2 separate regions of the Homo sapiens genome follow, and region 1 is linked to region 2. The links come from fine-mapping of genetic effects on gene expression. A gene starts in region 2. The other region holds a variant in brackets. All regions are shown on one strand. Distances are from middle to middle.

Region 1 (4,388 bases), 140 kb after region 2:
TGGGAGACCTGATGTGGGAGGAGCGCTTGAGGCCAGTAGTTCCAGGCTGCAGTGAGCTATGATCACATCACTGAACTCCAGAGTAAGACCCTGTCAACAAAAAAGAAAAGAAAAGAAAGAGAAAAAGAAAGAAAAAGTAATTTAGTTATGGTGGTAAAAGAATTGAAAGAAAGAAAGAAAGAAAGAGAACGAAAGGGAGAAAGGAGGGAAGGAGGAAGGGAGGGAGGAAGGAAGCAAGCAAGGAAGGAAGGAAGGATTTTAGTTAGGTGGTAAAATAATTGACTCTTCCTCTGCCTCCACACAGCCTGCAAGCAGCAGCTGGTGCCCAGCGTGCAAATGTATCACTACCAGCACCAGAGGTTAACAGATACTACAGCTGGAGCTGCAGAAAGAGCCTCCTGAGGAGCTGGACTCTGCAGATGAGAATGAAAGCAGTGACTTTATGGTGTACAGGTGTCCAGGCGTGGCCCCGAACAGGGAGATGGTGGTGTGCAACCCTCTTTTTGGCCACTTCTCGCTGTCAGTGCCTCTGCTGGGCCCACGCCCACTGCCCCACTGAAGTGACCCCCAAGGCTGCAGGACACCCACCTGCTCCATGAGTGGGGAGAGGCAGGGCCCACGCTTCTCATTACAAAAATATGTTCTGACACTCTGAGTACTTGTGGCTGGGCTGGAGAGGCATTGGGCCCTGGGATCTCTTGCCAGGGAGACAACCCCCCTGCAACTTTGTGCTAGGTAATCTTCTGTCCCCTCTTGTGTCTCTTCTTTCCAGTCTGGACCTTCAAATTGGAGGGGGTGAGGAGAACCCTAAAGCCCAGGCATCGATGGGGAATTCTGGAGACAAAAGCTAATTAAAGTTCATTTCAAACCTGTGGGGAGAAAAATTCTAGACATAAACCTAATGTAAAGAAACACATAAAATTTTATTGGAAGACAAAAGAAAAGTGGAATGAGCACACATATCATGTTTTTGGATGGTAAGAATAAAAATTGTGAAAGTGTCAATTTTTTTCTAAATCATCTATTAATTCAATGCAACCTCATGAAAAATTACAAAGGGATTGTTTTAGTCCATTTTATGTTGCTATAACAACACCACAGACTGGGTAATTTATAATAAGCAGAAATTTGTTTGGCTCATAGTTCTGGAGGCTGGGAAGTCCAAGAGCATGGTGCCAGCATTTGGTGAGAGCCTTGGTGCTGCATCATCCCATGGCAGGAGTTGATAGGACAAGAGAGAGGGCTAGAGTAAGACAGGGAAGGTGATCCAAATGTATTCTTTTATCAGGAATCCACTCTTGAGATAACTAACCCACTCCTGCAATAACTTCATTAATTCATTTATGTAGTGCCCTCCTGACCTAATCACCTCTTAAAGGTCTCATCTCTCAACATTGTTGCACTGGGCTTTAAATTTCCAACACATGAACTTTGGGGGGCCACATTCAGACCATAACAGGGATATTTTATGAAATTTGACAAGCTGATCTGCTAGTTTATATAGAATGGAAAATACACAGATTAATAAAATAGATTTAAATTTCTTTTTTTTCTAGAGACAGGGTCTCACTTTGTCACCCAGGTGGGAGTACAGTGGTATGATCATAGCTCACTGCAGCCTCCAACTCCTGGGCTCAGCCAGTCCTCCTGCTTCATCCTCCCAAGTAGCTGGAACTATAGGCATACACCACCACATCTGGCTAATTAAAACTTTTATTTTTTATCTTTTTGGTAGAGACGGGGTCTTACTATGTTACTCAGGCTGGTGTCAAACTTCTGGCCTCAAGTGATCCTCCTGCCTTATCCTTCCAAAGAGCTGGGATTATAAGCCAACTCACCTGGCCAATA[G/A]AAAAGATTGGCACCACTTTTAAAATTTGAATTTTTTGCCAACAATAAAAATTTGAGCTGGGCAGGGTGGCTTACGCCTGTAATCTCAGCACTTTGGGAGGTCAAGGCAAGTGGATCACAAGGTCAGGAGTTCGAGACCAGCCTGACCAACATGGTGAAACCCTGTCTCTATCAAAAATACAAAAATTAGCTGGTGTGGTGGCGCACGCCTGTAATCCCAGCTACTCGGGAGGCCGAAACATGAGACTCACTTGAACCCGTGAGGCAGAGGTTGCAGTGAGCCGAGATCACGCCACCGCACCCCAGCCTGGGTGACATAGTGAGACTCCATCGCAAGAAAAAAAAATTGAGGTTTAATGCAGTGATATAAATAAAATATGATCAACAGTTCTGGATAAAATATTTGCAAGCTACATGGTTAATAGAGATTATTATTCATAATAGGTCAGGAGCTCATACAAGTAAAAAAAGGAAAAAAGGCAGAAAGATGGATAAAAATGGAAACAGTCAAGTGATTCACTTAAATCAATCTACATGTGAAAACATTCTTAATCTCGTTAGTAAAACAGTGAACACAGATCAAAGTGTGTCCGGAATTGGTTGTTTCTTGGTCTCACTGACTTCAAGAATGAAGCCTTGGACCCTCACGGTGAGTGTTACAAGTCTTAAGGTGGCGCGTCTGGAGTTTGTTCCTTCTGACGTTCGGATGTGTTCGGAGTTTCTTCCTTCTGGTGGGTTCGTGGTCTCGCTGGCTCAGGAGTGAAGCTGCAGACCTTCCCGGTGAGTGTTACAGCTTTTAAGGCGGCATATCTGCAGTTGTTCGTTCCTCCTGGTGGGCTCATGGTCTCGCTGGCTTCAGGAGTGAAGCTGCAGATCTTCCTGGTGAGTGTTACAGCTCATAAAAGTAGCGTGGACCCAAAGAGTGAGCAGTAGCAAGATTTAACTGCAAAGAGAAAAGAACAAAACCTCCACAGTGTGGAAGAGGGCCCAAGCGGGTTGCCACTGCTGGGTCGGGCTGCCTGCTTTTATTCTCTTATCTGGCCCCACCCACATCCTGCTGATTGGTAGAGCCGAGTGGCCTGTTTTAACAGGGTGCTGATTGGTGCGTTTACAAACCCTCAGCTAGACATAAAGGTTCTCCACAGCCCCATCAGACTCAGGAGCCCAGCTGGCTTCACCCAGTGGATCCCGCACAGGGGCTGCAGGTGGAGCTGCCTGCCAGTCCAGCACCATGCGCTCGCACTCCTCAGCCCTTGGGTGGTCGATGGGACTGGGCGCCGTGGAGCAGGGAGTGGCGCTCGTCGGGGAGGCTCGGGCTGCACAAGAGCCCACGGAGGCGGGGGAAGGCTCAGGGATGGCGGGCTGCAGTCCCGAGGCCTGCCCCGCAGGAAGGCAGCTAAGGCCCGGCGAGAAATCCACCGCAGCGCCGGTGGGCCGGCACTGCTGGGGGACCCAGTACACCCTCCGCAACCGCTGGCCCGGGTGCCAAGTCCCTCACTGCCCAGGGCCGTTAGGACCGGCCGGCTGCTCGGAGTGCGGGGCCCGCCAAGCCCACGCTCACCCGGAACTCCAGCTGGCTCGCAAGCGCGGCGCGCAGCCCCGGTTCCTGCTCGCGCCTCTCCCTCCACACCTCTCTTGCAAGCTGAGGGAGCCGGCTCTGGCCTTGGCCAGCCCAGAAAGGGGCTCCCATAGTGCAGCGCTGGGCTGAAGGGCTCCTCAAGTGCCACCAAAGTGGGAGCCCAGGCAGAGGAGGCGCCGAGAGCTGTGAGGACTGCCAGCACGCTGTCACCTCGCAAAAGTAAGGAAGATCGATTATTTTTCACCCATTAGCTGGGCAATTCAAAAAAATTCTGTTGCATTCCATTTTGGGGGAGTATGCATTGGTAATAGCCTTTTGAAGATTGATTTGGCAGTGTTTATTAAAAGTAAAAATACCTATTTTCTTTGCATCATCACTTCTGTATTTCTGTCCAAGAGAATTCTTTGCACATGTACAAAGTTATACAGGTTGAAAGAGGCATGGGTAAAGATTTTCAATGCAGCATTGTTCATAATTGCAAAAAATTTTCAATTTAAATGTCCATCATTAGGGAAACAAATTGTGATATTTCCAATACTACATAGCATTATGCAGCAGTAAGAGAGAATAAGGTAAGTGGCTGGGCACGGTGGCTCACGCCTGTAATCCCAGCACTTTGGGAGGCCGAAGTGGGCAGATTACTTGAGGTCAAGAGTTTGAGAACAGCCTGGTCAACATGGTGAAACCCCATCTCTACAAAAACACAAAAAATTAGCTGGACATGGTGGTGTGTGCCTGTAATCCCAGCTACTTGGGAGGCTGAGGTAGGATAATCGCTTAAACTTGGAGGCAGAGGTTGCAGTGAGCTGAGATTGCGCCACTGCACTCCAACCTGAGTGAACCAAAAAAAAAAAAAAAAAAAAAAAAAAAAAAACGAGAGAGAGAGACTAAGGTAGACCTGTAAAGACTAAGGTAGACCTATAGTGATCCACTCACCTCAGCCTCATCACTTGAGATCAGG
Region 2 (4,388 bases):
TATCAAAGGGAAGTATAGTTCATTTCTGATACGTCTCTGTTCACTTCTTCACATTTTATGCTGCAATCACAAAGACTTGCTTGTCATCCCAACTACCTGTTCGCTGCTTACCACTCCTACTCACCTACACAATCATATTTCATGCCTAAGTCCTGTGGTCCTCTGTGCTTGTAATGGTCTTCTTCCAATCCTTAATGTCATTGCTTCTAGACTTTACCGGCTCTCTTTACCTTCCTAGACTAGTTAACCTCTTTCTTTTAGGCATTGTAACATCATGCACATAAATCTCCATTATTGTCCAGCTCCATTGTTTTGAGATTTACTATCTAGTTTCTGACATCTTTATACCCCCAGACATTGCAAGCCTCGCCTACGGTGGGAGGCCAGGTTGAACTAACATACCCTGAAAGTTTCCTTTTAGCTAATAATTGACTCTAAAAGAGAGTGTAATCATTACATAAAAAGTATTGTCCTCTGGGCGCGGTGGCTCACGCCTGTAAATCCCAGCACTTTGGGAGGCCGAGGCGGGCGGATCACGAGGTCGGAAGTTCGAGAGCAGCCTGACCAACATGGCGAAACCTCGTCTCTATAAAAATACAGAAATTAGCCAGGCGTGGAGACAGGTGCCTGTAATCCCAGCTACTCAGGAGGCTGAGGCAGGAGAATGGCTTGAACCCGGGAGGCGGAAGGTTGCAGTGAGCCGAGATCGCGCCACTGTACTCCAGCCTGGGCGACAGTGCCAGACTCGTCTCAAAAAAAAAAAAAAAAAAAAAAAAAGTCTTGTCTGCATAAAACCCTTACAATTGTTAACTTGTCAAGGTTCTAGTAGCCAGGAAGTTCTAATCAAACTCGGCCCCAGGACTGCCTTGTCAGCACGCCCCTTGAGAAACTTTTCTGAGAAACCTGCTGTTTACCTGGTGCCCTAACCAGTTTAATTTTCTTTTAAAACTTCTACTGGATTTCTCCTTCTCTCCTTTTAGATGCAATTTTGATCTAGAGAAGTAATGGTCTGAGCATCAGTTTATGAAATTATTTTATTTTTCTGCACATAAACATTATTTTTCAAAGACAATTTCATTAACTACATCCTGCAGCTCTGCAGACTTTCAACAACTTTAAAAGGTTAGGCGTTTGAGATATGTTCGCCTTGACTTTCAGTCCTCAAGACATATGTACATTTTTCTTAGTCTCAAAGCTCATGTCTGCACTCTAGTCCTAAAGGATTTGTCTTTATAATTCTCACCTTAGCATGAAATGTGCTTCTCTTTCTTTCCTTCCCCACCCCCCACCCCCTTTTGACATATCCGGTAGGGAAGCTCTGGCAGATTCTCAAGAAGAATTTTGCAAATGGTCGACTTTTGTTCATCTCAGGTTTTGGAGGGAGAGGATAAAAGAACATTCCCTCAGATAATGAGTTTTAACCTTAATTCCTTCCAAAGCGGAGGGGGAAACAAAACTACAGCAAGACCACCTTGAGTACCTTGGGAAGGGCAGCCCCGCGATCCCTAATAAATGAATTAGCATCTCAAGGAGGAGATCACTGCGGGGCTGATATTGATCAGGGTCAGCCGGCGTGTTTGCCAGCCATTGTTTGGGGGGTGGTTAATTGAGTGTCAGTCTCGGCCAGTGTCGTCTCGTTGGCGCCGGGTGCTTTTGGATTTGCTAATTTTCGTTAAGTGTCTCTAGCCCGCTACTCGTCCCGCGTACCCGGGAGAACCTAGCGGCTCCTAACGGATCAACAGTCAGTCTGTCTGGGCTTTATTGATCCCATGGCGGGCAGCTCGAGGCGGACACGCTGAGGGGGTGGGGGGCGAAGGCTGAATGCAGACCCCAGCGCTGGGCCGCCTCCCCCGGGCTCCCACCCGAACCCTCCTCCGCCACCTGCACAGGCCGGGGCATTGTCACTCGCCCCTGGGGGTTCCAGAAAACGCAGTGCGGCCGGGGAGGACGACCACACGGACCCCCTGCGTGTTTCGGGGGGCACCCAAAAGAAGCCCCGCGCTGGGGAACGCTGACCACCCGAGGCTGAGCCGTCAGGGTCTCGGAGGCGGGTTCCCGAGCCGGTCCCGGGGCTGGGCTCCCCCGGCGCCTCGCGAAGGTCACTGACGCGCAGGCCTCCGCAAGGGGGAGCGCGGGAGACGGCAGCGCACCAGCCGGGCGCCCCAGCCGGGCGCCCCAGACGCCGGCGCCGCTCGGAGCCGCCGGGCAGGTCCCCCAGCGCTCGCGTCTGGGCCCGCCCCCCGCTGCGGGGCGGATTGACAGGAGCCCGGCGGCCAATCGGACGCCGTGGGGCGGGGCGAGGCGGGGCGGTGCAGGCCGGCTCCCGGCGCGGGGCGCTATTTACGGCGCGGAGCCGGAGAGACCTGGGCTGGCGCGGGCGGGAGCTGCGGCGGATACCCTTGCGTGCTGTGGAGACCCTACTCTCTTCGCTGAGAACGGCCGCTAGCGGGGACTGAAGGCCGGGAGCCCACTCCCGACCCGGGGCTAGCGTGCGTCCCTAGAGTCGAGCGGGGCAAGGGAGCCAGTGGCCGCCGACGGGGGACCGGGAAACTTTTCTGGGCTCCTGGGCGCGCCCTGTAGCCGCGCTCCATGCTCCGGCAGCGGCCCGAAACCCAGCCCCGCCGCTGACGGCGCCCGCCGCTCCGGGCAGGGCCCATGCCCTGCGCGCTCCGGGGGTCGTAGGCTGCCGCCGAGCCGGGGCTCCGGAAGCCGGCGGGGGCGCCGCGGCCGTGCGGGGCGTCAATGGATCGCCACTCCAGCTACATCTTCATCTGGCTGCAGCTGGAGCTCTGCGCCATGGCCGTGCTGCTCACCAAAGGTGGGTGCCGGGGGCGCACGGGGCCCGGGGTCCCGTCCTCGCCGCGGGGCTTTGGAGCCGGCTGCAGAGGCTTTGTTAGCGGCAGGCGAGGCTCCCTCCTGCGCCGGAGCCGCAGGTCGCGACAAGTTGCTGTGTTCTTAGAAGTCGCGGCGGTGGCCTGGCGCGTGGATGCGGACTCCGATCTAAGGGCAGGCGCTGATCAGAGGGTCCTCCTGGCTCTGCCTGCGGGGAGCGGCGCGTTTGCAGCCCAGCGGGGAGCGGGGCCGGAGTCTCGGCCTCGACGCCGCCGCTTCCGCACCCTGGGGGCTCGGGCGGCCGGGAGGAATCGCAGATCCTGGCCTGTAGCTGCCGCGTGCCCTCAGCGTGTCTGTGTGAGTGCCTCAGGGTGTATTTCTGTGAGTGTGTCTCTGAGTCTCAGTATCCCTAAATGCATTTTTGTGTCTCTGAGTGTCGTTGTGTTTCTGAAAGTGTGTCTGAACCTCTGTATCACTCAGCGTATCTCTGTGTCTCTTTGAATGTATCTCTGAATGCATTTCTGTGTCTCTTTCTGAGTCTTTGTGTCTCTGAATGTGTGAGTCTCTGTATCTCTGATCTTGAGTGTGTCTTTCTGAATGCATTTCTGTGTCTGTCTCTAAGTGTCTTTGTATCTCTGAATGTGCATCTGAGTCTCTGTGTGAGTGTGTCTCTGCGTACATCTCTCTGTGTGCGAGCGAGTGTGTGGGTCTCCCTGAGAGTTTAGGTGTCCGAGGTGTGCAGAAGTGTGTGTTGTGTTGCTTTTCAGCAGCCGGGAGGAGTAGGCTCTGTCAGCGTCTCACTGCCACTCACCTCATATTTTACAAACAGGACCAAAAAAAAAAAAAAGGCAGCGGGTCAGTTTCTTCTTTCCTCTGCAGGCTTTCACCTTTTAGAAAGAAATAACCCGAACTGTCTCCGAATTTCAAGGTTCTCCTCACCTCCCTGCTGTGAAATCTACCTACTGTTCTGTGAACAGATAATTTTTTTAAGTAGGAAGCAGTTTAGTCTTTGCAGCCCCCTACTTCTCTTTAATTGCTATGTAGCAGGCATGAGGTTAAAGCATAAGCTAGCCCAGCGAGGATGATGTGCTACAGTATTTATTTATTTTGGAAGGAAGGGTGTAATTAACCCTAAATAACAGCCCTTGTGGCTTGCAGAGGGGAGCCTCCTGGCCCTATCAAAGGCGGGCAGAACAGGGAGGGACTGAGGCTGACATGAAGTCACAGATACCGAAACTATGTGCCTGATAATGATATAATTAGGGGATCAGAGATTTCTGACGGCTGCGGACTTCAAAAGCTTTAAAAGAAGCCAGCAGTCTCTCCTGTAGCCATCTTGACTAAAGCAGACATTTTTGTTTAATCACTACATACAGTAACGAGAAGGGGACAGAAACAGAAGGGCATTGTTCCACAGTTTCAAAATACCAGTCCCCTTTCTGGCCTTTTGCATGCCACAGGAAGAAACTTTATGAACGACAGAAATATAGTTTTAATACAGTGGTACAAAAGTCCATTCTCCTTGCTTAAAATGTGGCTCCAATTAAAAAAAAAAG

What was found. PIP is the estimated chance that this variant, and not a neighbour inherited with it, causes the effect.
Region 1: its variant is the best candidate, but not a certain one, in a credible set for the expression of BAMBI in whole blood (INTERVAL, PIP 0.72).

The regions. Positions count from the first base shown.
Region 1 is chr10:28,812,587-28,816,974 of GRCh38, forward strand. No RefSeq gene overlaps it. Among named protein-coding and RNA genes, the nearest start is that of LINC00837, 19 kb to the left of the region's middle. The variant G/A (reference allele first, on the strand shown) is at 1,849.
Region 2 is chr10:28,675,156-28,679,543 of GRCh38, forward strand. It overlaps BAMBI (BMP and activin membrane bound inhibitor), which reads left to right and starts at 2,366. Exons shown (of 3, transcript NM_012342.3): 1 at 2,366-2,818. The coding sequence starts at 2,743. RefSeq lists silencers at 1,834-2,393, 3,119-3,263.